3 separate regions of the Homo sapiens genome follow, and all the other regions are linked to region 1. The links come from fine-mapping of genetic effects on gene expression. A gene starts in region 1. Each other region holds a variant in brackets. All regions are shown on one strand. Distances are from middle to middle.

Region 1 (10,363 bases):
GATATGTCATTATTAACCAAAAGTCCATAGTTCACATATTAGGATTCACTCTTGGGGTCTTACATTGTGTTAGTTTGAGCAAATGTGTAATGACTTGTGTGCACAATTATAGCATCATACAGAGTATTTTCCCTGCCCTAAAAAATCCTCTATGTTCTACTTACTCCATCCTTCCCTCCCTAGTAATCCTGGGCTTTTCACTGTCTCCACAGTTTTACCGTTTCCAGAACATCACATAGTTGGACTCATGCAGTATGTGGCCTATTAAAATTGACTTTTTTCATCTAGTAATATGTATTTGAGGTTTTTCCAAGTCTTTTCATGGCCTGATAGCTCATATCTTGTTTGTATTAAATAATATTCCATTGTCTGGCCACACCACGGTTTATTTATATATTCACCTATAGAAGGACATCTTGGAAATAATGAATGAGGCTGCAATAAGGATCTGTGTGCAGGTTTTTGTGTCACATAAGTTTTCAACTCTGTTGTGTAGATGTCAAGGAATGCAAGTTGCTGGATCATATGGTAAGAGTATGTTTAGTTTTATAACAAATTGCCTAAGTATCTTCTAAAGTTGCTGTACCATTTTGATTTCCACCAGCAATGAGAGTTCCTATTTCTGTTGCTTCACATCCTCACCAGCATTTGATGATGTCAATGTTCTGGGTTTTGGCCATTCTAAATTGGCATGTAGTGACATCTTGTTTTAATTTGCATTTCCCTGATGATATATGGTGTGGACCATCTTTCATATGCTTATTTTCCATCTGTATATCTTCTCTAGTGAGATGTCTGTTAAGATCTTGGGCCCATTTTTTAATCAAGTGGTTTGTTTTCTTGTTATTGAGTTTCAAGAGTTATTTGTATATGTTGGATATGAGTCCTTTATCAGATATATCTTTTTCAAATATTTCTCCCAGTCAGTGGCTTGTCTTTTCATTCTCTTGACAGTGTCTTTTACAGAGCAAAAAATTTTAATTTTAATAAAGTCCTGCTTATTGATACCTTTTTTTTCATGAATTGTGCCTTTGGTGTTGTATCTAAAAAGTCATTATTGAACCCACATAATCTAGAATTTCTCTTATGTTATCTTCTAGAGTTTTACATTTTACATTTAGGTACATTTTACTTTTGTGATTAACTTTCAGTTAATTTTTGTGACAAGTGTAAGGTTTATCTCTATATTTTTTTTACATGTTTAGATGTCCAGTTGTTCCAGCACCATTTGTTGAAAAGACTTTTTCTCTATTGTATTGCCTTTGTTCTTTTGTCAAATATTAGTTGACTATATTTATGTGGGGCTGTTTCTGGGCTTTCTTTTATATTCCATTGATCTATTTGTCTATTATTTCACCAATACCACACTGTCTTGATTACTGCAGCCTTATAGTAAGTCTTGAAGTCAGGCAATATTCATCCTCTAACTTTGTTTTTCTTCTTCAATCTTGTGTTGGCTATTCTTTGTCTTTTACCTCTCCATATAAACTTTAGAATCAGTTTTTTAATATATACAAAATAACTTGTTGGTATTTTGATTGAGATTGCATTGATCCATAGATCAAGTTGGGAGAACTGACATCTTGACAACATTGAATCTTCCTTTCCATGAACATGGGATAGCTCTCCATTTAGTTAGCTCTTTTCTTTCTTTCATCAGCATTTTCTAGTTTTCTTCATATAGATCTTATACACATTTTGTTGGATTTATACCCAAGTATTTCATTTTTGGGGATGCTAATGTAAATAGTATTGTGTTTTAAATTCAAATTCCACTTGTTCATTGCTGGTATATATGAAAGTGATTTACTTTTGTATTTTAACCTTGTATCCTGAAATCTTGCTGTAATCAGTAATTAGTTCCAAGAGTTTTTTTGTTGCTTCTTCAAATTTTCTACATAGACAGTCATGTCTTCTGTGAACAAAAATAATTTTATTTCTTCCCTCTCAATCAGTATACCTTTTATTCCTTTTTCTGTCTGATTGGATTAGCCAGGACTTCCAGTACAATGTTGAAAAGGAGTGATGAGAGGGGACATCCTTGCCTTGTTTTTTAATCTTAGTGGGAAAGCTTCCAGTATCTCAACATTAAGTATGATGTTAGTAGTAGATTTTCTGTAGCTATTTTTTTTTTTAAATCAAATTGAGGAAGTTCCCCTCTATCCTAGTTTGCTGAGAGCTTTTTTTAATTTATTTTTTATTTTTTATTTTTGATGGAGCCTCGCTCTGCTGCCCAGGCTGGAGTGCAGTGGCACGATCTCGGCTCACTACAAACTCTGCCTCCTGGGTTCAAGCGATTCTCCTGTCTCAGCCTCCTGAGTAGCTGGGATTACAGGCATTCACCACCATGCCTGCCTAATTTTTGTATTTTTAGTAGAGATGGGGTTTCACCATGTTGGTCACGCTGGTCTCACCCGAACTCCTGACCTTGTGATCCGCCCGCCTCAGCCTCCCAAAGTGCTGAGATTACAGGCGTGAGCTACCACGCCTGGCTGCTGAGAGCTTTTATCATGAGAGAGTATTGGTTTTGGTCGAATGCTTTTTCTCCATTTATTTATTTTTACTTGTTTTCTATTTAAAAAAAATTTTTTTATGGAGATAGGGTCTTGCCATGTTACTCAGGCTGGTTTCAAACTCCTGGCCTCAAGTGATCCTCCACCTTGGCCTCCCAAAGTGCTTTTCTTTATTTTTTTATATGAGCATTTGTTTTTTATTATTTAGCCTGCTGATGTGATTGATAACATTGATTGATTTTTGTGGTATCCTTGCATATTTAGGATAAATCCCACTTGGTTCATTTTTGTGCTATTGATTGATTTTTGTGCTATCCTTGCATACTTAGGATAAATCCCACTCAGTTCTGGTGTATAATCCTCTTTGCATATTGTGGGATTCAAGTTGCTAATATTTTGTGGAGAATTTTGCATCTGTGCTTATGGGAAATGTTGGTTTTCAGTTTTCTCTTCTCGTAATGTCTTTGATTTTGGCATTAGGGTGATACTGGCTTGACAGAATGAGTTAAGAAGTATTTCCTCTGCTTATACCTTCTTAGAAGTACTTCCTCTGCTTCTATCTTCTTAAAGAGATTGTAGAGAATTGGTATAATTTTTCCTTAAATATTTGGTAGCATTCACCAGTGACCCCATGTAGGCCTGTTGCTTCCTGTTTTGGAAAGTCATTATTAATTCAACTTCTTTAATAGGATGATCTTTTCAGACTGTCCCTTTCTTCTTGTACGAGTTTTGGCAGATTGTGTCTTTCAAGGAATTGGTTCATTTAATCAAGATTATCAAATTTGTGAGCAGGGTGTTGTTCATAGAATTCCTTTATTATCCTCTTAATATCCATAATGTCTGTAGTAATGTTGCCTCTTTCACTTCTAATGTTAATAATTTGTATCCTCTTTTGAATTTGAATTTGCTAGAGGGTTATCAATTTTATTTATCTTTTCAAAAAATCAGCTTTTGGTTTCATTTATTTTTCTTTATTAATTTTTTGTTTTTAATATGCCCTCATTTTCATTATTTCTTTTTTCCTGCTTACTTTGGATTTAACTTGCTCTACTTTTTCTAGTTTCTTAAGGTGGAAGCTTAGGTTGTTAATTTAAATCAGAAAGATTTCCTTTCTAATGTATACCTTCAATGCTATAAATTTCCCTCTAATCACAGCTTTTGCTGTATTCCACAAATTTTGATAAACTGTGTTTTTATTTGTATTTACTTCAAAATATTAAACAATTTTTTGGGGGATTTTTTCTCTGACCTATGTTTGTTTAGAAGTATGTTGTTTAATCTCCATGGGTTTTAGGATTTTCCTGTTATCACTTTGTTACTTATTTCTAGTTCAATTTCATTGTGGTCTGAGAGCAAATGTTGTCTGATTTCTCTTCTTTTAAATTTGTTATGTTGTGTTTTACGGCCCATAATGTTATCTATCTTGATGAATGTTCCATGTGAGCTTAAGAAGAATGTGTATTCTGCTGTTGTTGGATAAATTAGTTTATAGATGCCCATTATTCTAGTTGATTCATGATGTTGTTGAATTTGACTATGTCCTCACTAACTAATTTTCTGCCTGCTGGATCTGTCCATTTCTGATAGAGGAGTGCAAAAGTCTATAATACTGGGTTCATCTATTTTTCCTTACAATTCTGCAAGTTATTGCCATACATAGTTTGGTGCTTGTTGTTAGGCACATACACATTAGGGACTGTTATGTCTTCTTGGAGAATTGAGCTATTTATTATTAGGTAATGCTCCTTTTTAGCCCTGATGACTTCCTTGCTCTCCTCTGTCTGTAATTACTGTAGCTACTTCCACTTCCTTTTGATTAGTGTTAGCATGATGTATCTTTCTCTATCCCTTTACTTTTTCTTGTTCTTTTTTTTTACAATAGTCATTCTGTACAAGAACATCAATGTATCCCTTTACTTTTAATCTATATGCATATTTACATTTAAAGGAATTTCTTATAAATAACATATGGGTTGATCTTCTTTTTTGATCCATATTGACAATCTCTGTCTTTTAATTGGTGAATTTAGACTATTGATATTTAAAGTGATTATAGATCTAGTTGGGTTAAAATCTCCCATATTTGTTTCTGTTTTCTATTTGTTGTCCTTTTCTTTGTTCCTAGTTTTGTCTTTCACTCTTTTCCTGCCTTTTGTGGTTTTACTTGAGCATCTTATATGATTTCATGTTTCCCCATTTCTGAGCATTTTGGTTATTCTGCTTCTTTTCTTTTATCTTTATACTTTTTTCAGTATTTGCCGTAGAGTTTGAAATATACATTTACAATGAATCCAAGCCCACTTTCAAAGAACACAATACTGCTTCATGGATAGTGTAAATACCTTGGTCATGTTCTTTTAAATCAGAGTTCCCATATAAAGATGCTTCAAGAGAGAAAAGATTTATGACGGTAGACTTTTGTTTGCTATACCCTTTAGAAAAAAACATGTTTCTAAAGGATAATAAACCTACTTGTTCTTTCTGGTGGCCGGTGACTGCTTGAATAGTGTTTCCTTAGAATTCATGGCCACTGAGAATCACAGTATGTGGCCATATTTGGAAATAAGATCTTTGCAGATGTAATTGGTTAAGATGAATTTGTACTGGATTAAGGTGCGCCCTAATCCAATGACTGGTGCCCTTATAAGAAGGCCAAGTGATCACACAGACACACACAGAAGGAAGAAGTCCGTGTGATAGTGGAGGCAGAGACTGGAGTGATGCAGCTACAAGCCAAGGAACACCAATGATTGCCAGGAGTCTCCAGAAGCTAGGAAAAGGCAAGAAAGAATCCTACCCTAGAATTTCCGGAGGGAGCATGGCTCTGCTGATACCTTGATTTTGGACTTCCAGTTTCTAGACCTGTAAGAGAGTAACTTCCTGTTCTTTAAGCCACCCAGTTTGTGGTAATTTGTTATGGCAGCCCTAGGAAATGGATACAGTAGTGATGGGGGAGTTTCCTTCACTCTGATTGCTGTCATGTGATTGGCATTCCACTGTAACACACCTGGCCACTCACTCACTCACTCAGGGGAGGAAGAATGACTTAAATCTGCTTGTTGACCTGGGAAGGATAAACTGGACACTTGTATATCAGCCTTTTCCCTTCTTTTTTTCTCTTGGGTGTGAACTCACCCCAGAGAGCATGCAGTCTATGTGGGGAGGCCTGCAGAGGATCAGTATTACGAGGCCCCAGGATTGCAATATAAGCAACATCTTCCAATATCGGCCTTAGCAGTGATAAGTTTACATTTTAATTGCCCCAGTGTATTTTTTAATCTTATTTCTCAATTTGTTAAGTACTCAGCATGTATATGGATGGATTGAGGTGGGGAAAGGAAAGCCCCTTTAGACTGGCAATAACCCTCCAAGTTCCTTCTGTTCTCAGTAAAGATTTGTTTAGTTTCCCTTGAGAGGAACATTGTATGGAGAAAGGACACCCTGAGGGATGAATTAGTCCTCCTGTCTGCCTAGCCAGGATCATAATACCTCAGTCATACCCCACACACAAGAGAACACATTCAGTTTTCATATCTTCCAGGAGAATGACTTCAACACCTTCTGAAAGACCCCTGGAGTATTGAATACACTTTTTGTTACTTATCTTCCTTAAACGGCTGAGTTGATGAAAAAAAAAAAAAAAGGTCTGGGATAGGTTAAGATTTTAAAAAACTTTTATCTTTAAATTTCATTTATTATTATTATGTCTCAGTTTTACATTTTTATTTTGAAATAATTATAGTTTCACAGAAAATTACCAAAAATATATGGGGAAGTCCTGTGTATCCTTCACCCAGTTTCCTCTAATGGTAACATTTTGCGTGACTATAGAACATTATCAAAACCCAGACATTGGCATTGGTACAATTGGCAGAGTTTATTTAGCTTTCAAGGGTCAGTCTCTTCCCTCATTTGCCCCCGTCAGGAGGATCTTACTCTCCCAGACTTGTTCTCAGCCTTTCTGGGGACAAATGAAGGAAGCAACTGGGGAGAAGAAACTAACCAGAGGTTTGGAGATGTTTCTCAGGTTATTTTGAGAACAGCCGATCCGGTAGGTGAGAGAAGTGGGTAAGAAAATAAATGGAAAGATTTTAAGTATTGCTGTTGAGTGTGAGTAAACTCTGTTTTTCCTTTTCTCTCACACCCCAACAATTAACACAGAAGACTTCTGTGACCAAATGTGGTGGTGGGGGTTCCCTTATACACCAAGCAAGCAATCGCTTCTGCAGCAGGCACCAGCTGGGCGTCCTCCAATTCAAATCTGACACTGTCTACTGGGAGATACCATCAGATCCCACAGGTTGAGGGCTCAGTCCCACAAGACCACTCTTTCCTTCTTACCAGTCGTAAGTCCAGGCCTTCTGAACTTCTGACTGACTGGCTTCAAGTTGGGGTTTCCATGACCTCCTCTTTGAGTTTAATTAATTTGCTGGAGTGACTTACAGAAGTCAGGGAAACACTTATGCTTACCAGTTTATTATGACGGATATCTGAAAGGATGCAAATAAATAGCCACATGAAAACATGCATAGGGTGAGGTCTGGAATGGTCCTGAGTGCAGGAGCTGCTGTCCTTGTGGAGTTGGGATACGTGCCCCTGCTCTAGCAGGTGGGTGAGTTCTTCGCCTTCCTGCCAGCCTCCATGTGTTCAGCGCCCCGGAAGCCCTCGAACCCTGTCCTTTGGGCCTCTTTTGGAGGCTGCATTGATTGTCCATAATTGAAGCAGAGACAACTGTGTCAAAATGTGATTGGATAAGAAGAGTATGCTCTAAACCCAGCAAGGCCTGTCTGTTCAGATTCTTTTTGGCCTCTCTGTGCAGCATTCCTTCCTCCTGGGAATGGGGCAGGACCTCTTCTGAAATGGGGTCTTATGACCTGCAATCAGACAAGGTAGGTCAGGGAATTTCTTTTTGGCCAGTGCAAGACAGAAAGGTAGGGAACAATTAGAGTATATTTTTAGTTCCTAAGGCCTGCCTTGGGAAAAAAAGGGAGCAGGTGAAAGGAGGGCAGGAGACGGTCAGAGAGAGATTGTATTTTCTCAGGCCTGCTTCTGGGATCTAAAGTGCTCCAACATTACAACAAAACACTGTCACAAGCGCTATGGGAGTTACGAGCCAGAAACCTTGGATGAAAACATATATATAAAATAGTATCACAGCTGTAGTCTCTGGGTGCGCCCCTCCCCAACCCATAGTGTTAGAGAATTTCAAGTAATGACTTTTATTTTGCAACCTCTTTCAGGTGTTATAATATTGTTTTCTAAATGCTGTCTTGACCCAGTTTTGAGGCCCTGTCTAGAGGCCAGTTTCCCTGCCTAGACAGGCGACTGGCCCACGCTTCGACTACCTCCGCTGGCTACTGTCCACCCACACCGATCACCCCAGGACCAGTATCACACAAGCAGGGACAGCCCCTGTGCCCCAGAGCCCACTGAAATTATTCCAATTAGTCCATCCTATGCCTTTTGACCCTGCCTCGCAAATTCCTTCCCTGTAAGCCACAAAAAAGGCGTTCATCCACAGATCCCCCTCCCTCTGCCTCCTGAGGGGGTCCTGGTTTCTTGTGTGACCTCTATCTTTTCAGTGATGTCGTTTCTTGGCCTTATCACACTTAAATAATTAGAAACCTATTAAAACAGGTGGGTGGACCCTTTCACTGCACCACTTCTTTGGAAAAATAACTTTATTTGTTTCAGATCAAGTATGGCAAAAAAGAAAAGAAAGGATCACTCTGTGGGCAGCCTGTGGCTTTGTTCTCCCGTGCTGTTCTGTAGGTTTATAGTGGGTAGGGAGGATGTGTGGGTGTGGCAATGTGTATGTGTGTGTGTATATAATGTTTGCACTATTTTTTTCATGTAACTTAGCTTTAATGGAACTTATATATGAATAATATACTATTGCAATGTATCCATACTGACAATTTTAACTACTTTATAATATTGTATTTTATGAATGTACCATCACTTACTTAACCGTTGCTCTGTTTTTGTCACTTTGAGGGTGCTTATTTATTTATTTTTTTCAATAGTTTTCTACCTACAATACCACATAATGAGGCAGATGTGCTTCATTTGGAGTTTGCGTTGGGGAAGGTCTAGCCTGGCAGTTTGATCAGAGGTCAAGTTTCAGAAGTTCAGAGTTTTATTTTATTTTATTTTAACCACTAAAATGACTTGCTCATGAGCATCTTTGTACAAAACTTCTGTGTGCTCTTGGGATTATTTTCTTGGAATATTTGACTTAAAATTATAATAGTCTCCCCTTATTGGAGGTTTTCATTTTGAAGTGTTAATTGTCCTCAGTCAACTGCAGTCTGACAGTAGGTGAGTATAGCACATAAGATATTTTGAGAGAGAGAAAGAGAGAGAGAAAGAGAGATGACATTCACATAACTTTTATTATAGTATATTGTTATAATTGTTTTATTTTATTATTAGTTATTTCTTACTGTGTCTAATTTATAAATTAGACTTTATCATGGGTATGTATATATATGAAGAAACATAGTCTATATAAGGTTTAGTACTGCCTGTGGTTTCAGGAATCCACTGGGGGTCTTGAGGTGTTTCCCCTGCAGATAAGCAGGGACTACTTCCATATTAAGTTAAAAGGCATTTGTATTTTTTCTCTTTTTATGTATGTTGCCCAAATCTACAGCTAACTTTTGCATACTTTGTCAACAGAAAATGTTTATACTACATTCCATAATATTTAAAAATTAAGGAAGAATTATAGAGGTAGAATTTTAAAAATTAAAAACAAAACCTCTCCATGGACCCCATAAATACATAGACCTACGATGTACCCATAAAAATGAAAAAGTTTTAAAAAAACAAACAAAACCTCATGCACATCTTATGTTGTGGAATGAAATTTGGAAAGTATATCTAGAAAATAAGATTCCTGCTCAAGACCTACTGATCAAAATCTCTGGGAATGAGACCTGATAGCTTACATTTTAAACAAACTCCCGAAGTTATTATTATTATTATTATTTGAAACAAGGTCTCACTCCATCACCCAGGCTGGAGTGCAGTTATGCGATTATGGCTCACTGCAACCTCGACCTCCTGGGCTCAAGCGGTTCTCCTATCTCAGCCTCCTGTGTAGCTCAGACCGCAGGCGCATGCCACCACTCCTTGCTAACTTGTTGATTTTTTTGTAGAAAAAGGGTCTCGCTTTGTTGCCTATGCTGGTCTCGAGCTCCTGGGCTCAAATGATCTGCCTGCCTCAGCCTCCCAAAGTGCTGGGATTACAGGTGTGAGCCATTGTGCCCGGCTCCTCAAATTGTTCTTTTGTGCACAGAAGTCCATTTTATTTTACAAGTAAGGAATGGAGGCTCAGAGAGATTGAATGTCTTGCTCAGGGACACAAGTCCTGGTTTACAATGCAGATGGTTTTGAGCATACTATGAAAATGCCAAGCCAGAAGTCATTTAAGAGTCATTAATTCCTGCAGACTCCTGCTCATGACAGCCATCTCCTGATCTAACCTGCTATAGTTATGGGTCGAGGGTTAGTTCCATTATAATCTCTTTTTAACGTGGCATTGTCATTCAACTTATTTTTGCTTCACTCAGTAGAGAAAGCCTATTTATTAAGCCATTAGTCAATTTGCTCTTTTTAAAGACAGCTCATGTCCTTCGTTCTTTTCTAGCGCCTGTGAAGTCTCTATTTTCCCATTAGGAAATGTATTGTCACGACTTGGCATTTAGTTTATAATGTGGAGGAAATTAAAAAGCAGTTGGTGATGTGAGACAGAGACCTCCAGGCCTCAGAGTGAAGGTTACATGGAATCCTCTGAGGGATGGGTCTTGTCACCCCAGCCGTCTTGTGACTGTGGGAGAAGACCT
Region 2 (10,363 bases), 49 kb after region 1:
CCTGAAATGACTCCCTCCTGTATTTCCTTGTGTTAAATTTTGCCCTCATCTCACTGCTAGAAGTCCAGGTAGCCCCTAGTACAAATTCACCCTTTGGAAAAGCTGTGATTTAGTGCCAGGTCTAGGAGATGCTGTGTAGCAGGTGGATGGGGAGCCTTAGGCCTCCTTTCGATTCTCCCTCTTGACTCCCAAAAGTTTCTTCTTCTCAATTGTCAGATGCCTATTCTCTCATGTCTCATCTGCCACCTTTACCCCCCACCACCCTTATGCATTCTGTACTTTGAAAATACCTCATCTCCCCCAGTCTTTTTTGTGCCATTTTCTTAAGCCATCAAAAGTCTCTTCCCTTCAGAGAAGCTGTGTGAAGTGTATAAATTTTTTTTTGCTACATTAATCCATTAGAAAAACTTGTAAGGTAAGAAAGTTCATCTTGAAGCCACCAGGCTGTCTTTTCCCACCCTTGTGTTGTCCCCATTGTGCTGTTTCCATTTTCTCTTTTCTATCAAATCAAAACCAGCTCTCAGGAAAGAATACTCATAGGTAATTTGTGGTATCTTGGAAGTGGCATAAATGACTTGGTCTTCCAAAAGAAATGTTGCTGGTGGGGGCTGGGGGGAGCAAGTATTCTGGGTCACTTGAAAAGGCCGTAGAAGTCATAATATGTTGGGTGCCTGAATGCTCAGCCTCTGTATCTGCCATTCAAAGGGCCCTGCAAAGCAAGGCCTGTTATAATCCAGGTGTGTGTCTATATGCACCGAGGGTCACATTGTAGAAAAAAAGTGCAAAGACAACAATTTATTCCTAGTTTTTGCAAATCAGGATTGTCTTCTCCTTAGGGCAGGAAAATGAACTGGAGGAAGGAGAATAAACACAATGCTGAAGAGCCTGTTTATGGGGGTTCAAGCATTTCTGTTTCCTTCCTTGCTTTGCACCTCCTCACTCTCTTAACACTCAGATTTCTGGAATGGACCCAGGATGCAAATGTAGCTATAGGATTTGGATGCAATTCCTCTATGTTCTCTGCCATACCTCCTTTCAAAATGAGTCAAGAAGAGAGAAAACATAAAGATCATCTTCTCTTTTTAATATAAACAATCTGTGGCTGCAGGAAAAGGGGTTGAAACACGAGGGATAGATATTACTCAGGGTGACAGTCGGCCTTCTGCAGAATGACCTTTACTGACTGTTTATCCTGACTGTTGGAGAGGAAGGCCAGGAAATGCTTTCAAAACGTGGACACATCAGTAACCAGGATATATATATGTTCAGTGACTGTTCCTCTTCTACCAACTGAAATGATACGCAGTTTTATTTCTATTTTTACAAAATAATTGAAGCGAGTTCGTTGCTTTCTCCAGGGAAGTAACTGAGACATAATTTCAAGTATTAATACAACAGAAGTCTTAAAGGTATACGTGGCACATGATGCTTGAACTTTTACAAAATACTTTTCCTTAGAGGAAACTTTGGAGGCTGAATGATGTTATGGATAGAGTTCAAGTTTTGAAGTTAGATCTGTTTTAAATCTGTTTCCCTGTATGAAGAATGGTGTTGCTTATTCTCTTCGATCCCATTTCTTTCTGTATAAATGTAGTAACAACATTTAAATCTTTCTTGATTGCTACAAGGGTCAAATGAGAAAATCTATGTGAAGTGTCTGGCGGGGAGTTGATGCTCAATGAAATTTAGTTTCCTTCTATGGCCAGAGACTGCTTGTTGCCTAACCAATATCCATATCCCCTTTTCATTTAGTACAGACCCTGATTTCATTCTGATGGCTGTATGCTCAGTAATGAGGCCATATGTCCCAGCTTCCTTTGCTGCTAGAAGTGGTCATGTGATGTAGTTCTAATTAATAAAATGTATACAGTTGTTGGGTAAGGTTCTGGGAAAGTGCTGTAAAGGGGAGGACATCAGCTAATCCAGACTTTTTCTATTCCTTAACTCCTTCTCCCTATTTCTCCTGGAAAGCAGACATAATGGTTGGAGTTGCTGCAGCCATTTTGGATCATAAGGCAACTTTGAGGGTGCAGCCATGCGCTATTAATCAGAATTGTAGAGAAAGATAGGTATCTGGATCCCTAATGACACTGTAGAGCTATAGCTGCCTAGGACTGCCTACCTCTGGACATTTTAAAAATATGTGTGAGCTGAAGAAATTTTTATCTTGTTGAAACATCTCTCATTTCTAGCATCTGTTATTAAGCAATGGAATACAATTCCTAACTAATATGCCTTTCTCTTATACTTATTTGCTCTTATTTAATCCTCACGTTTATCCTGTGAGTTAGTTTAGTTTTCCCTATTTTATAAATAAAAAACCTGAAGTGAAGAGGGTTAAGTATTTTGCTCCACATCACTCAGCTATTCTGGGTTACCACTGATTTTTAACTTTATTATCATTGCTCTTTCTACCATAAAGGGTAATCTGTTGAGTTTTCCCAAGACCCTTTTACCCTAGGTCTTGCAGCCAGTGTGGCATGATGGTTAGGAGGCCAAACTCTGGAGCCAAACTACCCAAATTTGAATCCTGGTGCTACCAGTTACTGCTGAGAGATTTATGTGCAAATTGCTTGACCTCTTTGAGCCCCAATTTCCTCCTCTATAAAATCGAGATAGCAACACCTCATAGAGTTGGTATCATCCTGAAATGAGTCAGTGTATCTAAAATGCTTAGAACAGTGCCTGGTATATAGAGAGCTATTAAGTGTTAGCTATTACCGTTCCTTTTTCTACATCAGGCAGACAAATCCACTCATTGGACACAAAATCTCTAAAACCATAGCTAATCTTGAAAGATTTTACCATATTTCTGAGGTTTCAGATTTACATCAGTGTTATGGGGCATGAGTATTCTTAGCTAATTCAGAGTCCTTAGCTAATCCTGAGACCTTCCTGTGATCACATGGTTATGAGTGGGGGCTCCCTGTAATGGCACCCCTGATGGGCTGGGAGCCCAGGAATCCCTGGTGGTGGGAATACCATCTTTGTTATATAGGAAATGGGAGCAGGTGGCTGATAGGATTCTGGGTGAAGAATACTGGGGCGTGAAGGACTAAAAGTTAAGTATAGAATGGAGGCTCGAAAAGACATGTTGATATCTTAGGAAGAAAAATATAATTTTCTAGACTGGAGCCAAGAAAGAAAAAAAAACACACATAAGGGAAGGCTGTAAGGGAAGGAAATAAAATTTAAAAAGGGCAGAGAAATTCTCAAGCCTGGTGAGGTCTGGAACTTACAGACTTTAAGTCCTCGGGATTTTCACAGTATGCCAACCTGATATGCATATTTTCATTTCATGGTGGGGAGGGATTAGGGGAGCAATTGTTTCCCGGGGGAACATTCTCTAAAAATATAACTTTTTACATAGGTTTTTTTTTTTTTGAAAAGGTAGTGTGTTTCATGAGGATGAAGACCACAATGAGGACATCAGAAGAAGGATTCTGTTTTTTTTTGGGGGATGGAGTTTCACTCTTGTTGCCCAGGCTGGAGTGCAATGGCCCGATCTTGGCTCACCACAACCTCTGCATACTGGGTTCAAGCGATTCTCCTGCTTCAGTCTCCCAAGTAGCTGGGATTACAGGCATGTGCCATCACACCCGGCTAATTTTGTATTTTTAGTAGAGATGAGGTTTCTCCATGGTGGTCAGACTGGTCTTGAACTCCTGACCTCAGGTGATCTGCCTGCCTCGGCCTCCCAAAGTGCTGGGATTACAGGCGTGAGCCACTGCGCTCGGCCTAAAAGAAGCATTCTGAAAGCTCAGCATGACCAAGGAGGGAAGGGAGGATGGTGAGAGGAAGGTCTTCTTCTTTGTGCTTGTTCCTCTGTGAGCCCACAGCAAGGACCTGGCCAACCTCTTCCTGCTCTGCCCTGCCTGAGGTGCCGACTCACCCCAAGGTGAACTCTGTAAGACTTCTGGACATCTGTCACTTCCCTATGTTGCCTATTTTTGAGGTCCTTTGTCAGTTTCCTCACAGAATTTGTTATAAAATTCTTAAATTAAAATGGGATTCTGTGTTTGTCCTTACTGTCAGTCAAGGAGGCAAGGTGAGGAAGCCTGCCCCAGTTGGGCAGGTGAGGGCAAATGTGGGGAGTGGTAGTGACAGGGAGAGGGCATTGTCCTGGGGTTTGCTGGAAGGGAAGCAGGGACAGATGGAGGGATGATCCTGGGTGTGCATTCAGAAAGGCTTGCGATGGTTTCTTCTATCCTGGCCTGCTTTGTAGGAGAAGCCACACTGGGCTGGTCCTTGTGTTTCTTCTACCTCATTTTTAAGTTCCTTTGAAGCTTATTGTCTGAGATAAAGGGGACACCTGTGTTTTCAGTGGGCTCAGCTCAGCTGCTCCGTGAGCAGGAATACATTTACTATACTTGGTCATTGCATATTAAGCCCTTTGTTTTTGTTTTTAAAAGGTTCAGTGGTTTCCTTTTATCCACCTCACCCCCCATTCCATCCAGTCTGTCACGTGGCCAGTGTTGTGTGCCTTAAACAGATGTTCTCAATTTCCCTGAGGAGTAAGTTATGGATGAGTCAGCCCCAATGGGGTGGGTGATGGAGCTGCCTAGAAGTGTTTCTTATCAGCTCCCAGGAGGCTGCCTCAGGTTCTAAGGGTAGAGGTGGCCCCAGGAAAGTGGGTGTCAACTGTTCACAGGAAACAACTGAAGCAGGACTTTGAGAACTGCAAAGAATAGGGCATCAGCCACAAGATAATTTAGGTCCCCAAGCACTAGGCGTTGACTTTCTCCTCCCACAACACCTTTGAGAATTGTAATTTGCTGCAGCTCATGTTGGTTCAAAAATATTGCAGGGCAACTCTCCTTGTTTATCTCACCTAAGTGGCTCCTGAATCCATTGGAAAAGAACCCTCCAAGTTGAGTTATAAACATTAAAAGATGACCTGTTGGTCTCATAAATAACTTTGCTGTGCTGTGTGTGTGTGTGTGTGTGTGTGTGTGTGTTCGTGTGTGTGTGTGTAGAAAACTTATCCAAAAATTATTTCAACCCCTAGGCAATTGCCAGGGAATGTCTTAGAAAACCACAGTGGGCATTTTGGAAAAATGCTCTGGGGATGGGCCCAGAACACCAGAACAGCTCAG[T/G]GGCTGCCTCTTCTATGATGTTACAGGGGAAGACTATAAATCTGAACCCTCTGCTGCCCCCACCCCCACATTACTCATATCTCAGCTCCAAGGCAGCAATAGCAAATCACTGTGCCGGAGCCACTGCTTAACATGTTTTACTTCCTTTTAGTTGAGAAGCTTTTTGGTTGGTGTTCAAGTTATCTATTGTTGTATAATAAAACCCCCAAACACAGGGGCTTAAAATAACAATAACCATTCTGTTTGCTCATGAACTCACAATTTGGCCAGGGCTTGGGAGGAGCAGCTCATCTTGCTCCACAAAGTGTCATTTGAGGACACCTAAAGGTGGAGTCATCTGCAGGCTCACTCATTCACATGTGTGGCTGCTGCTTGGGAAATTAGTTAGAGCTCAGCCAGAACACCCACATGTGGCTTCTCCACATGACTGCCTGGCTTTCTCACAGCATGGTGGCCAGGTTCTAAGACAACAACCCAACAGAACAAGGCAGAAGCACATGACGTTCTTATGACCTAGCCGTGGATGTCACTTACCACCATACTTCATTGGTGAAGGTAGTCCTCATTCAGTTTCTGGAGACTTTCTTCTTTAACATTATTCTTACAATATTACTCTGAATCCATTTGTCCTGGTCTCTTATAAAAAAAAGCACTAATCACCCATGCATTAGGTCACTTTTGTTATCTACACAAATAATTTTTCCTTTCAGTGTATTTTTTTTTCTGTTTGTCATTTTCCTATGCTTCTGGGAGAAATTTTTGTGTTTATCCTCTACATGACTTAATTTTCCACATTCTCATTCTGTTCTTTAAAAGATTGATTTAAATTCTTCTATAGCATTTTTTATTACATAATTTCCTGAACGCTGCAGGCTTTTTTTTTGACTTATTCTTATGGTTCTTATGTTTAACCCTTTCTTCTTTTATTAATCAAGGTTTGTATTAATTTTGTTAAGAAAGATAGTAAATGTTAAGGTTTTTGTTTTTGTTTTTTTTTTTGCAACAGTGAATCTTTTTTTTAAATGGGCTGTTTTCTACTTCTTTTGTTTTTTATTTACCTCTTTCTTCCACACTGCAGGGCACCTTCACAGTCCCTAATTTTTAAATTTTGTTTTCTGTGTATTCACTCTTGAGAAAGAAGAGAAATATCCCACTGTGGTAACAACTAAAGAAAGTACAAACGTGTTTGTTTGAGTCCTCTTGTGTCCACCTGTTGGCAGTTAGATTCTTCCTCCCAAATGTCAGGTTCAGGGGTTGTACTTTTAGATGATGTTTTGAGAGGTCTCGTGGGCCAGGAGATCCTGGAGAAGAACCCAGCATTCTCAGGAGTCACAGCGAAGAATCTTCATTTCTGTTGCTACACCAGTTGCCAGATGTCCAAAACCTGAGGTCACTGAGGGGCATGGCTGGCTGAGACTCACCTCTGTCCTGGAGCAATGGGCTGGTGTGTGTGGAAGAAGATCCCATTGAAGGGAGAGTAGAGAGGTTGAGTCCCACTGCACTGAGAAGGATCCTCATCCAGGGACTTCTTAGGATTTCTACCTGCAAGCTCTTGGTTTAGTGTGGCTGTGTTTGCTCTTGGACCTTGTAATTCAGCTAAATTCGGGAAGCTGTCCATCAGCTGGTGCCAGATGAACACTGGATGGGATTGTGCTGGTTGCCCCTCAGCCTGCTCTTATCTCTGGCTCCCAGCCCTCCACATTAGGGGTGGTAGGGTATTCTGACAGGTTTTCCTTTGCTTACAAGAAGTAGGGTTGTACCATTTCCTAGGGAAGGAGAGTTGTGATTCAGCAGTCAGCCTTTTCTTTCAGCCTGGATCCATTGGCCTTTTAGCAGAAATCCCTTAACTTTTAAGTATACAAATGACGCCTTTCTTTGGTTTGAGCTATAAGATTTTTATCCCTCTTTTTTTGTTGTTTTTTTTTGTTTGTTTGTTTTTTTGAGACAGTCTCGCTCTGTCACCCAGGCTGGAGTGCAGTGGCATGATGTTGGCTCACTGCAACTTCTGCCTCCCAGGTTCAAGCAATTCTCCTGCCTCAGCCTCCCAAGTTGCTGGGATTGCAGGTGCATGCCACCACACCCGGCTAAGTTTTGTATTTTTAGTAGAGATGGGGTTTCACCATGTTGGCTAGGCTGTTCTCAAACTCCTGACCTCAAGTGACTGTCTGCCTCGGCCTCCCAAAGTGTTGGGATTACAGGTGTGAGCCACCACGCTTGGCCTTTGTCCCTCTTTTTACCTCCAGATTGATATTCCTTCAGAAATAATTTCAGCTCATTTCAGGGTGCAGGAGTGTTGGGATTTCTTCACTCGTTTTATCTTTTCCCCCAAATTATTGTTGGATTAATTTAGACTAGAGCTTCTCAAACTCAGCCCTATTGACATTTTGGGCTGGACAATTCTTTATTGAGGGGGGCTGTCCTGGGCATTGCAGGATGTTTAGTAGCATCGCTGGCCTCTACCCACTACATGCTGGTGGCACCCTATCCCCACCACCAGCAGCCTCCAGCTGAGAACCACTGCTCTAGAGCTTCTGCAATGCATCCTCCCACCATCCCCATGCCATGGCATCTCAGACCCCAGAACTGGAGGGCATCTTGAGAGATCACCTGTGTTTGCCCCCTTTTGTCAAGCAAAAAAGATGTTGTTATCTGCTTTCAACAGATGAGGTTAGATGATAAAGATGAGGAGGAAGAGGCAACTGAGCCTGGCCCGAGATTGCCCCTTTACACTTATTTATGAGAATAGGACTTGGGTTTCTTGTCTTCTGGAGCTTCTGCTATATGCTTTGTAGTCCTGGCCCATTAGGAGATAAAACTTCTCCATACAGGAACCCTGCTTGGCAGGACTTCCCTAATCCTTATTTATTTGAGACAGGAGAAAATGCTGAGAATGACTTAATTGGCTTACAGTGTACACATGTTGGAGTTTATGCTCTAGGAGTAATTCTGCTATGCAGAAGCTCTGATTTCCCTGTGAGGCTTGGCTCTGCAAGGAGGGAGTGGAAATGAATGATGGGCAGAGACAGACAGCCATGGACATGAGAGTTTACTGCTCTAACCCTCACTGGTTCTCATCAATGTCAGGGAAGAGCTAGTTATGAAGAAACGGGAGGTTGGGGAGTGTTGTTCAATTTAAATTACAGGGTGTTTGAGAAAGAGGCCACTGCTCTCAGACAGGAAAATCCTAGCCTGTTGAGTGGGAGAAAAAAATCGTACTGAGCAGACATAAAAAGAGTATGAGGGAGGTAGTTCAACTCCGTGTGACTGCTGAAATGACAGCTCTTTGGGAACTGCACAGTTATCACCCTGAGTGTGTGACTATTTTAGCTCACAGGAACTCCAAATGGGGTTGTGTGAAAGGCCTCATTTAACTTTGAGGCCCGAGAGGCCCCCAGGGAGACAGATGTGTTCCTCAGGAACAAGAAGCAGCTCTGCGGTGTAGGCCTACCTCTCTTCCTGCACTGTCCTTCTCCAGGGAAGAAGAAATGGTTTGCTGTACACAATTGGAATGTGCTGAAGGGGAGCAGGGTAGTAGTCAGATCCTTCCCTTATTCCTGCCAATGTTACTTGATGATTCAATTTCTCAGCAATATCTGGCACATGGTTCCCAGGTCATCGGTGAGAAGAAGCAGCCTCAACCGGGTCATGGAGCCTCTCAGCTAGAAGCCCTCTTAGCTGGAGCTGGCACCCATGGAGTTCTCACCCCCTTTGCCAGTCCCACCCCTGGCCGCAGCAGCCACCGCAAGTAACTGTTGACTCCCTGTGTGCGAGGCTCTATGGGATAGGAAGCTGCTGCATGAGATGTAGTTCCTGTCATCAGGGGCTTGCAGTCAATTTGAGTGGACACATGAGAAAGATAAGAATCGATGAGAAAGCCAAAAGAAACCTCAGCGTAACAACAACCAAAACATCTCAACATACTCTATGCTACATTCTTGAGAAGTCCAGACAGTCAATGTCAAGGTGATAGAGTATCGCTGTACCCTAAGGTTCTTGGGGGAAGACTTCCCATTGGCTCCTGTGAGTCAAGCTGGGAGGAAAAGGTGATAAAAACCACCAAAGTGTTACCAGTATCCAAAAGTCCTTCAGGGACTTCATCATCACAAAAGTCCTTCAGGGAAGATGTTATCAGCACTCTCATTTTACGGATAAGAAACCAGAGGCTCGATGAAAGCGAATAAGATGGACAACTTGAGTATTCTACCACATGCCATGCATTATAATTGGAATTTACAAGGCTTCATTAAATTTCCACAACCAACCTGTGATCATTATTATTATCACTATTTTTACAATTTCAATTTTACAGCCAAGGAAACTGATGCTCAGCACAGCTAAGTAGCTTTTCCAAGACCATACAGCTTGTCTATAACTTCAAGTCCTAAGCTTTTTCCATTTTAGCCACATAAATATGACTTGGAGGAAGGAGTAAGGAGGGAGTGAGGAGACATTCTTGGCAGGAAGAGTAGCTTAGGCAGAAATGTATCTGGCATGTGTAGAAATCTATCTCATATCTTTGGGGTACAACCCATAGTCCATGAAGACCAGAACAGGATTTTCCAATTACAATGCAGGGTATATGATAGAATATCCAAGTTGTTCATTTCATTCTCTTTCTTTGAGCCTTTGCTTCCTTATCTGTAAAATGAGAGCACTAATATCATCTTCCCTGTGTGGGACTAGTCAGGAGATCAGCTTGACAAGTAGTAGGGCTCTGATTTTCTTTTTTTGAATAAATCTATGAGGGAAGTGTTAGGTGGGTGAAAGGGGAGAGTCTGGAAAGCTGTCAGATCACGTGGGTGAGTATCCCATAGTCCAGGATGGGATACCGGAACTTGGTGTGACTGCTGAAATGACAGCTCTTTGGAAAGTGATGAGAGTGACACATAGGAAAGACCTGCCAGGCTGAGTTGATTGTATTTGTGAAAAGGATAAGCAGGCATTAATGAGGGCATCAAGATTCTAAGCATCAGTGACTGGGAGAATGAAGACAGAAACAGGTGTATTCAAAGAGGATATATACATATGTATATATATATATATTTTAAAACATCAGGCCAGGTGCAGTGGCTTACACCTGTAATGCCAGCACTTTGGGACGCCGAGGCAGGCAGATCACGAGGTCAGGAGATCGAGACCATCCTGGCTAACACGGTGAAACCCCGTCTCTATTAAAAATACAAAAAATTAGCTGGGCGTGGTGGCGGGCGCCTGTCATCTCAGCTACTCCGGAGGCTGAGGCGGGAGAATGGTGTGAACCCAGGAGG
Region 3 (10,363 bases), 100 kb after region 1:
CTCAGCCTCCCCAACTGCTGAGATTGTAGGCATGAGCCACCGTGCGCGGCCTCATTTAATTCACTTTTGAAAAACAAAGTATAGTATGACATCACATTCTACTGAATATTCTTTGGGATATTTCTTATAACCTTTGCTGCTTTCTGCCCCTATTTGCTTTGCTTTAGTTCAGGCACTAGTCCCTTCATAGTTAGCTAATTTCCGGAGTACTTTGGTGAATAACTCTTCCAACCCCAAACCTTTCTAGAGACCACGGTCATAAAACTCTTAAGTCATGAATATTAAAATCTCCTGGGCTCCAAATTTGCTGCCACATAAAAACTAAAATTCTCTGCCTTGTGCTGGTCCTGCAGTAACTATGGAAACATAGTGATTAAGAATACAACTCTAGAATCTGGCAAAGCTAGATTTGTTCCCACACTTCCTAGGTTTGTAAAGTGGGGTGTTTCAGAGCTTCCCAAGTCTGTTTCTTCCTCCGTAAATGGAAGATAATAATTGTATTTACCTCATAAAGTTGTCTTGGAATTGACATGAGATGATGCCTCTAAAGTGTTTAGCAGTTTGCATGGTAAGAGCAAAAATTGGACAAAATATTAGCAACACTCGTTGCATTTTCTGTGACTCTCCAGGATGCTTGCTCAGCTCTGGTCAGTGGAGCCTATTCACTGTGAAGCAGGGTCAAGAATGGTAGCACAACATTCCTGGCAGGTATCCTAATGGGTACTGAGCCAACCCCATGTATTGGGTAGGAATCTATTGTTAGCACAAGAAAAGGAAGCTTGGGATGGCTAAAGTGAGGTAGACAATTGGTGAAAGACACTGAAGCAAATATCTAGTGTTTGACTTGAGTGGTTTGAGTTCTGTAAACCAGGCAGAGGCTCATTCTATTGTGTCAGGTGTGGCAACATTCTCTATGGAAGCTAAATTGTTTTTTGGGATTCATTGATTTAGGCAGTGTCTAGATGTGAAGAGACAAGACAGGAGATGTCTCTTACCTATCTAGATGTAGTGCTTTTTTACTCCTGGGGTTTGGAGGTATGGGATGTTCTGTGTGCTCCTATGATGCTCCACACTGACTTGATGCCCACTGGAGTTGTGTGGAGATGCTGAGCACATCCCCGGAATGGGCTGGGAGATGATATGAAGGCTTCGCATAAGTGACCCTGACATCTGAAGCAGGCTCTTCTGCATAATCAGTGATGCTTATAGGCAGAAACTAGATACCTGTAACTAGATATCTGTGGGCCATTGGATGTCAGGAAAGGTTATTAGCATATTCTGAAGCACCTGTTCTGGCCATTTCTTACTGGCTTGAAAGTCATTGCCCTGTCCAACAAGGCTACGTTGTATACCTTGCAATTTGTTTCAGTTTAGAGCACAGGCATTTGTTTATGTAGTTAGAATTTTAAACACTGATGGAATAGTTTCTAATTTGTGCCTGAGAGTTTACACATAATCTGCGAGCATACAAAAATTTGCAATTCTATGTGGATGATGGTTTAAACATCAGCAGGGAAAAGTAATATGCTTTTATTGTATATTTTAGAATGCTGATTGAATTGGCTTCTCACTGTATTTGTCAAGGCTGGAACAGACGATGGCACTGCAGAATCTTATGTGCACAGAAGAAATCTACAGACATTCAATGAGGGGAGGATTTCGTTCCATCAGATGGGCTTCCTGACATAATTGCAAAGGTAGCATGGAATAGAGAAAAGAACATTGGAGTGGTTCCAGAATTCTAGGTGGTTTCAGATTTTTTACTAATTACTCAGGTGGCTTTGGGCAAGCCACTTAGCTTCATAGACTTCTGTTTCCTCATCTGTAAAATGAAGTGAGGAGACTTCTTGTTAAGTTTGGCAGATTAAACACTTGGGTTTATCTACATGTTCTCTCCAAACACCACTAAACTTTGCAGTAAGGAAATAAAAAGACATTAAAAACAATGATAAAGAGAGCAGGACAATAACAATAACAGCAATAACATTTTTAAAGCAAGAGAGAGGTGAACCAGTGGTAACTCAGCCCTGAGGAAACAGAGCCTCCATGGGAGTGGGGGAGGCCCAGAAGCAAAAGTGGTCTTACTAGAGTCCCAGAAAGACTCAGTAATGGAAACCTAGGAACTTCCAAAAGTGGGGACAAATTAGGGTCAGAAACAGGGAAATAGGCTGAAGATACGGATAAAAAAGCAAATTCATCAGAGAACTCCTCCCCAACCCTGCCCCTTATCTCTGAAGCTTTAGCTGGGAAAGCCGGGCTGACTCACTTCTGGTGAATGTGGTCTGCTCTCCTCCTGTAGGCAAAGCCCAGGCTCTTACATTGTGGCTGGGCAGGGTTCCAAGAGGGCTAGTCGAGGCATGCAAAGACTTTTGAGGCCTAGGCTTGGAACTGACACAGTGTCTCTTCTATGCATTCAGTTGGGCAAAGCAAGTCACAAGTGTAGCTCAGATTCAAGAGCTGGGGAGGGATAGGGTCTACCTCTTGATGGACAGGGCTGCAAAGTCACATTGCAAAGGAACGTGGCTACAGGGAAAGAAAGAGTTGTGGCCAGTTTTGGAAACAAGCTTAAGGCACAATAAGGATGAGATTCCTGAAAAATTCAGTTTTCAAACTTGCACACAAAAAGTAAGGCCATGTGCAAAAAAAGATTGAGGTAGAAAATTCACAACTTATGCAAAGCACTAGTAAAGACAATAATTGATACTCAGGAAATTAACTTGTACTATTGAGGCAGGCTGCGTGTGGCTGGGGCCTGTTACAATTGTTGTGAAGTCAGAGGAATAATTGAGAGAGAATGTTAGTAACACATACACAAGAGCAGAGCTGGTAGGAACTCCGACAATGCAGTAGAAGTGGCCTTCTCAGTCAGTGTGGCTGCCCTGAAGGTGCCACAGAGACAATACCACCTGCCAGGAGTCAAGAGTCCCACAGGTGTGGGGTGTAGCCGCTTCGAGGGTGAAGCCCAGGTTTAAGTACTTGTTTTTAATTTTCAAACCACAGGCAAACGGTTTCTATTGCCAGAGCAGCAACCATTAAAAACTTTTTCCTTTCCTACCGAAGGTTATACTTCTGCTCCACATCCTGTTTTCTTGAGCAGAGGAAGTATTGCATATAAATTAATTCTGCATTATACTGACATAATTTTTCTATTTACCAACTGCGTAGGAGCTAATTTGTATTATAAAACCACATCTGTTGTAAAATAGACTCCACAGAGGAATTATGTAAAAGTCTACATAGTGCATAGAGAGGTCCTCAGCCTCCTTTCCCAACCTGCCTTCAAGAACATGCTGGCAGCCAGGCTTTTATCCCTTAGGCAAGAGGGTGGATGAGCCTAATTGGAAAGGCATACAGATATCAACTTTAGGGATCCCTCAATCAAAAGCCCAGCCAAATCATCCTACAGAGCAGCCTGTCTCCTTAAGGCACAGAGCTTCCAGTCAGCTTTTTATTGCCTTGCTTTTAAAGGTTAAGGGACAGCCAGGGACATCAGCTATTTGACAAAAGCTTCTAATTTGAAAGACACAATCAACAGAAACAATGGGAACAAAAGGAACAGAAAGGAGGTAGGGACAATGTAAGGAATAGAAACAAAGAAAAAGCTAACAAAGGCAAAACTATAAATAATATCCTCTGAGTATAAAAGATGATATTGCATACATAAAATAAGAAGAGAATGTTATAAAAAAGAAATATTCAGAGAACAAAAAGAGCTCTTAGAGCTTAAAAAGAATATTGCACAAATGAAAATTTTAATAGAATTGTTGGAAGATAAAGTTGAGGAAATATCCCAGAAAGTATACCAAAATGACAGACACACACAAAAAGGATTTTTTTAAAAAAAAATTCGAGGATGAATCCAACAGGTACAATATCCAACTACTAGAAGTTACAGAAAGGAAAAAAAAAAGCAGAGGGAAGGATATTACAAAATAAATGAATTAAGAAAATTGCCCAGAACTGAGAGGCAAACCTATAGCTCGAACTGGTTAACTCACAAATAGGTGAAAGGACACACATCACACCTTACATCATTGCGAGAGTTTAGAACGCTGGCAGAGAGAGAAGGTCCTAAAAGCTTTAACTGGAAAAAAACTCCCAATAATCACAACCATAAAAATGAGAACCCAAGTATCATTAGTCTTGTCAATAGCAAAATGGGAAATTCAGAGGGAAAATGATATCCAGACTAGAGTTTTATACCCAGCCAATCTCACAATTAATATGAGGGAATAATAAA[T/A]GCCTTTTCAGACACATGAAGACTCAACGATTTATCTCCCATCAACCTCTTCTTAGTTAATATCAGCCCATGTGCTCCAAGAAAACCAGAGGAAATATCAAGAAAGAAGAAAACATGAGACCCTGAAAATAAAAACCTCAACCCAGAAGGTATGCCAAAGAAATCTCCAGGGCGACGGGGAGGGAGATGCAGATGCCATAGCTGTGAAACTAGCTTGGAGAGCAGCAAATCCCAGAAGTGGGGCACAGAGGCTCCAGAAAAATGTTTCAAAGGGAAGGATGAAGGCTTATAGAATACCTGATTGCTTGAATGCGTTGAAAAAAATATTTATTCCTAGAAGTCTGGGAATGAATATTCATTAATATTGGATGAAGAAAATAGACTTTTATTGGCCGGGTGCAGTGGTTCATGCCTGTAATCCCAGCACTTTTGGAGGCCGAGGCGGGCGGATCACGAGGTCAGGAGATCAAGACCATCCTGGCTAACACAGTGAAACCCCGTCTCTACTAAGAATACAAAAAAAAAAAAAAAAAAAAAAATTAGCCAGGCGTGGTGGCGGGAGCCTGTAGTCTCAGCTACTTGGGAAGCTGAAGCAGGAGAATGGCGTGAACCCGGGAGGCGGAGCTTGCAGTGAGCAGAGATCGTGCCACTGCACTCCAGCCTGGGTGGCAGAGCCAGACTCCGTCTCAAAAAAAACAAAAACAAAAACAAAAATTAGACTCTCATTAAAGCAGAAAAAATATTTTGGTAATCTTACCATCCAGAGATAATCACTATTCTTGTTTTTACGTACATAGTTGAGACCTTTATGTATGTTAAATTTTGTATCTTTCTCACACATCCATATCACGAACATTTCCTCTAAATTATATAAAACATAAGCAAGAAATAAATTGATAAAGAGGAGCTTATGGTACATATCTTTTATAGGTCCTTTCCTTCTATAAGGTAAAATAATTTAATGAATTGGACTAGATACAATATTCTGAAATTGGGTGGAGGGTAGTGCCAATTTTAAATTATCCTGTCTACCTATCAAGTCATGTTTGCTTTTATTGGGTGGGTGCTCAGAATATGTGATCCTTGAAGAAATAAGCATCCATGTCTATGGAGACATGACATCACCTTTGGGAAAATGACTTTGTGACAATTTATCTTACTGTATTTGACAATAACAGTGACATGTTATATATGCAGAGTGCTGCTTATGAACTTTTAAGAGCTTTCTCTTGCTGTATCTCACTCAATTCTGACAATAACTCCATGAAGTAGGTAAATAGACAATTTTTTGTATCCCCAAAACATTAATATTTAATATAATGTAAATGTTACTAACAGTGTCTATCTTAAATAACACCTTGCATTTCTTCAGGATAGTGCTTTCTCAGGTAATATTGCATGAGATTCTTTGTTTAGGAGAATTGGGCTATAGGAAATTCATAGAAATGCTGGAATGCTAATGGAAATTTCATGCCTTGCCTATTTCTCTCCATCCACCCATCCATCCATCCATCCATCCATCCATCCTCCATCCATTGACTTGTAGTCTGACGGCTATAAAAGAGGTCACATGGATTATCAGATAATTCTTCTTTTTGGCCAATTGTGGAATCATGTCTTAGTGATAACACAGGTTTCTCTTCTCTTGCTCTGATGGTAGTTCCCTCAACATTTTCCCTTGGAATAAAATAAGGTCTGGATAGTAGTATTTGCAGGACCCCAGCAAGGGTAGAGGTGGGAAGTGGGAAAGGATGCTCCATTAAAACAGTGAGGAGGAAGAGCCATCCGATTTTATGCAGCTGCAAACTGAATGATGAACTGGACTGGGATCTGCAGGACTTGATGGGCCAGTCAGAATAAAATGTCCTAGTCTTTTTAAACAACAGTTTCTTTGCCTAAAACACAGAAATAGAATTCACACCTATTTCAAAGGCATGTTGTGAAGATCAAAATAAGTTTTTGCATCATTTTAAGATGTTTTGGAACCCTTGTGTTAAAGGAATTGGAAGCTTTCTACCTCTGGTGCATGAAAAATAACCAAAGTTCAGCCCATGCAGCCATGAAGAAGCTTGAGAAAGACCACCGCTAAGAATGGAAAGGGGGCCTATAACTCTGGTACACTATACTCCTGCAGCCCAAGAGCCAGCTTCTCCAAAAACTACAGGACGGAAGTGCAAAATCCCTCTCTATGCTCTTCTCAAAGCTCTTAGAGAAGTCCTTTTGGCTCTGTTATCCGCATGGGTTCTCTGTGTGTGTGTGTGTGTGTAGGAATAACAGCATGTTTGGCTGGTGGAACACCTCTGTCTTCTGAACCCTGGTTCTTCTTGATTTTCCTTTAATTAGAGTTGATTTAATTATTAAAGTTTCCTATTTTTTTTTAAGAAGGCAAGGAGTTCTATTGATTTATAATTTCCCTAGAGCTTATTGTTGTCTTGCTATGACCCAAAGAAAAGCGTGTGTGGAAAGAGAGGTCCTATCAGAGAGTTCTGAGGCCACTGATTGACCCTCCTCTTTCTACCCTAACTAAATATGAAAATAAAAGCAGGCAGCAAACATCTGTTATCTTTATCAGAAACCTGGACTTTCAGTTTCATACCACACACGTGAAATGGAGAAAACAAATTAACTGAAGGCACTGTAGACTCTGAGTCACATAGATGTATTTTTAATTTTAAACAATTGCTTGTCACAAAACTCAAAGTATTTTTTTTTCTTTTCAGTGTAGGAACGTGGGAAATGAGTGCGTAGTGTGCCTGCAGGGCTTGGACCTCGTGCCCTTGGAGCTAGGAACACGGTGCTTTTGGGATTCTCTTTCTATCCCCTAGATGGCAGCAACATTCTTTAGAGCCTAACTGGTAAAAACAAACAAACAAACAAAAAAAACACCTATGGAAAAGCTGCAAGTCCTGCCTGTTTAGTCTTGGCTTTCAAATTTACATAGTACCTTTACTGTGCTATTTATGTGACTGCTTGGCTTAGTGAGTCTACTATTTATTAATGAGAATACATGACTTTCTCTGTTGTATGGAAAAATAATGGTTTTGTATATCTAGGTCTGTTGGTATCTCTAGACCAGGGTTTCTCGCATTGACATGATTGACGTTTTGGGCTGCATAATTCTTTGTGGTAGGGAGCTGTGCATTGAAAGATGTTTAGCAGCATCCTTGGCTTTTACCCACCCACTAGATTCCAGTGGTACTTCTTCCCTCCCCACCTCAGTCATGACAACCAAAAATGTCTCCAGATATTGCCAAATATTTCCCGGGGGGCAAAATCAGCCCTGGCTGAGAACCACTGAATTAGGTTGTTTTACTTATCTCCAAAGATTAGCTCCTGTATTACTATCATTTAATTTTGTAGGGATGGTTAAATTAAAGCATATCTACTTACACTTTTTCTTTTCTTTTTCTTTTTTTTTGAGATGGAGTCCTGCTCTGTCACTCAGGCTGGAGTGTAGTGGTGCGAACTTGGCTCACTACAACCTCTGCCTCCTGGGTTTAAGCAATTTTCCTGCCTCAGCCTCCCAAGCAGCTGGGATTACAGGTGCCTGCCACCATGCCCAGCTAATTTTTGTATTTTTAGTAGAGACAGGGTTTCACCATGTTCACCAGGCTGATCTCGAACTCCTGACCTCAAGTGATCTGCTCACCTCGGCCTCTCTACTTATAATTTAAATATATTCTATTTTTTTATTTGTTTGCTTGGGGGATACTTTTTCTGGAGGAGAAAGAAATGAGGCTGAAAAGACAAAGATACATGTAAAGACGTTGCACATCTTACCTCCAAATGAGAAGATTGAGGTTTTCAAATTATAGCTTCCTATTAATAATAGCCACACATATATACTTTTGTTACTTTTTATTCCTTTTGATTTTAACTAGCCTGGCTGAATATGAATGATGGGAAGGAGAAAAGCAAAAGGGGGTTATACTTGAAAATTGTTTTAGTCTATGAAAAAGGCTCAAAGAATTATAGAAGGATTGTGGAGATCACTCGGTCCAACTTGTGAGCCTTAAATCTGGGGTGCAGTAGTTATGGTGTAAGCTGAGGAGGAGCCAGGGCAGTATCATCACAGGTGCTCAGCCCAATGGCCTCTCCTTGGTGAGGAAGGTGAAGCCAATTTGAAAGCAAAGAGAGAGATTCGGTTCTCTGCAAAAAACAAACAAAACCAAAGCCAGTCCCTCCTCCACCCAATCTTCCATTGTAAATTCTGAGAAGGGAGCACCAGGCCTGGAGGATGCTGTCAGAACAGGACTCCTGAGGAATTAGATGCACCCGAGATGGCGATGGGACCCAGGTGTAATAACCAACACTCCACCTTCTATTAAATAGGAACTTTCTTCTGATTTGTTCCAAACACTCCCCACACTCGGAGAGCATTCCAGTGAAGTGGGTGGAGAAGGAAACAGATGTGAGACCAGATGCAGATCTGAACAAATTTGTTAGGTGAGTTCACGGATCCTTCCTTCTTTGGGAAGTGTTAGAGAAAGGAGGGAATTTCTGGAAACCAACCAAGTCAGTCTTGGAGATATATCCAGAGAACTCCATCAGCTATGAAGGGACCATGTTCCCACCTTTAGAACAGATATGATCTACAAAATAGAGCAAATGCTTTTTCTGGCGAGGAAGGACAGAGGGCAGAAAATGAGGTCCAAATAGAGTGGTTTGAGTTGTCCTCATCTGAGCCTAAACAGTTATGATGGAATCTCAGGAGGAGCCACATGGTATGAAAGGGTTTAATATTGAGTGAGCCTGGAGGAGGGACAGTATTGAAAGCCCAGCTCAGATGTACAGGATGTGTCTGTTCTTTAAAGATACTGATGCATTTCTCTTGAATTTTTCTACACTGCTGGGTCAAGCTATGTCAAGAATCTCTGTCTCATTGGGAAATGAGATATTTTCTACAATCTGTTTTTTTCTCTCATGATTCCCGTCGAGTTAAAGGCTGACATCTCATCAAGCAGCTCAACAGCCCCAGAGAGAGAGAGCGAGAGATCCCTTAGAGAGCTGGGCCCCAGGGAGAGACACATCTGAGGAACTCTCCCTGCATTGACTTGGCTTTGTGGCCTCTGTCCGAGGTTTTCAGATCTTATCAAATAGTGTCTCATTTGCACTGCAGTGCATGTCACAAAGCCCTGTGGATGCAAAGGAGGTGACAGCAAAAAAGGTTAACAGCAAACTGGGGACAGTGCCAGGAATGGAACTTGATTCCTTAATTCTTGTTCCAGAACCCAAGCAGCCTGGCTTTGCCAGGGCCAGCCTGGGTCTGTTCATAGAGCTGTCATTTGGCTTTTGGTCGTTTATATACCATTTGCTAACTGTTCATAATTCCAGTGCAATTTTCCTCAGAACATGGGAAACAAAGACAGCGAAACAAGGGGCTTTTATGTTTTTCTGTGCTGTCGTCAGTGGATGAAGTTGGCTGGGCAAGAGTACAAGCTTTTTCTTGCTACACTTGATGGAGTTTCCTTTTTTAAATGAACATTTTTAGGGAGAAAATGTCAGTGTGCAGGGTAAATGCAGAATGCCCTGTTAAATATTTAAAACATAGCATTTGTCCATCGATTTTGGCAGGGTTAGAGTCAATAGATTAATCATTCAGTCAACAAATACTTGAATAGATGCAAATCATTCATTGCTGTCAGAGCTACTCCTAGCCCCCACTGAGTCTTTGTGCAAAATTGAAAAAGGGGGTCCTCTGGGCAGAAACAACTCTGCACCAGGCCACATGACTTCAAGAGTCCCTAGCTCTCAGTCATGTGCCTTTGTGCAGTGTACAAACTGTGCAACTGTACATGACTATACATTGAGAGAGAGAGTGGGCCATATATTATGCCATTAGAGTACAAAATTAGGTCTTGAGCAGAATTTCAAGAAAAAGTCCCCCTTTTTGGGGCATGGCAAACAGAAGGAAGTAAGTTGCTTATTCTAAGGGAAAAACTACAAAGGCTTGCTGGGGTTTTGCCCCTAAATTCTTTACCCCTACTGCTGGGATAATACAGCCTCCTCTGGGCTGTAGGAACAATCCTGGATGTAAGGAGAAGGATAAGAAGGACCTGAGGACTCAGTATTGAATGAATCTCATCTTTCAGCTTCACGGTGATATCTCATGTCCATCTAGGT

Which allele goes with the higher level. Alleles are on the strand shown, and positions count from the first base shown. SD is a standard deviation of normalised expression in the study named. Not every link is listed here.
As copies of G replace T in region 2, the expression in fibroblasts of the gene that starts at base 6,493 in region 1 goes down (moderate effect, 0.41 SD a copy in GTEx).

What was found.
Region 2: its variant is fine-mapped to the expression of RMEL3 in fibroblasts (GTEx, PIP above 0.99).
Region 3: its variant is fine-mapped to the expression of RMEL3 in lung (TOPMed, PIP 0.97).

The regions. Positions count from the first base shown.
Region 1 is chr5:57,388,615-57,398,977 of GRCh38, forward strand. RMEL3 (enriched in melanoma 3) reads left to right here and starts at 6,493. Exons shown (of 4, transcript NR_186596.1): 1 at 6,493-6,564.
Region 2 is chr5:57,437,206-57,447,568 of GRCh38, forward strand. All of the region lies in intron 1 of RMEL3 (enriched in melanoma 3), which reads left to right. Among named protein-coding and RNA genes, the nearest start is that of ACTBL2, 40 kb to the right of the region's middle. The variant T/G (reference allele first, on the strand shown) is at 5,097.
Region 3 is chr5:57,492,529-57,502,891 of GRCh38, forward strand. RMEL3 (enriched in melanoma 3) reads left to right here. Exons shown (of 4, transcript NR_186596.1): 2 at 1,547-1,697; 3 at 4,252-4,389. Among named protein-coding and RNA genes, the nearest start is that of ACTBL2, 15 kb to the left of the region's middle. RefSeq lists enhancers at 1,766-2,965, 2,364-2,423. The variant T/A (reference allele first, on the strand shown) is at 4,241.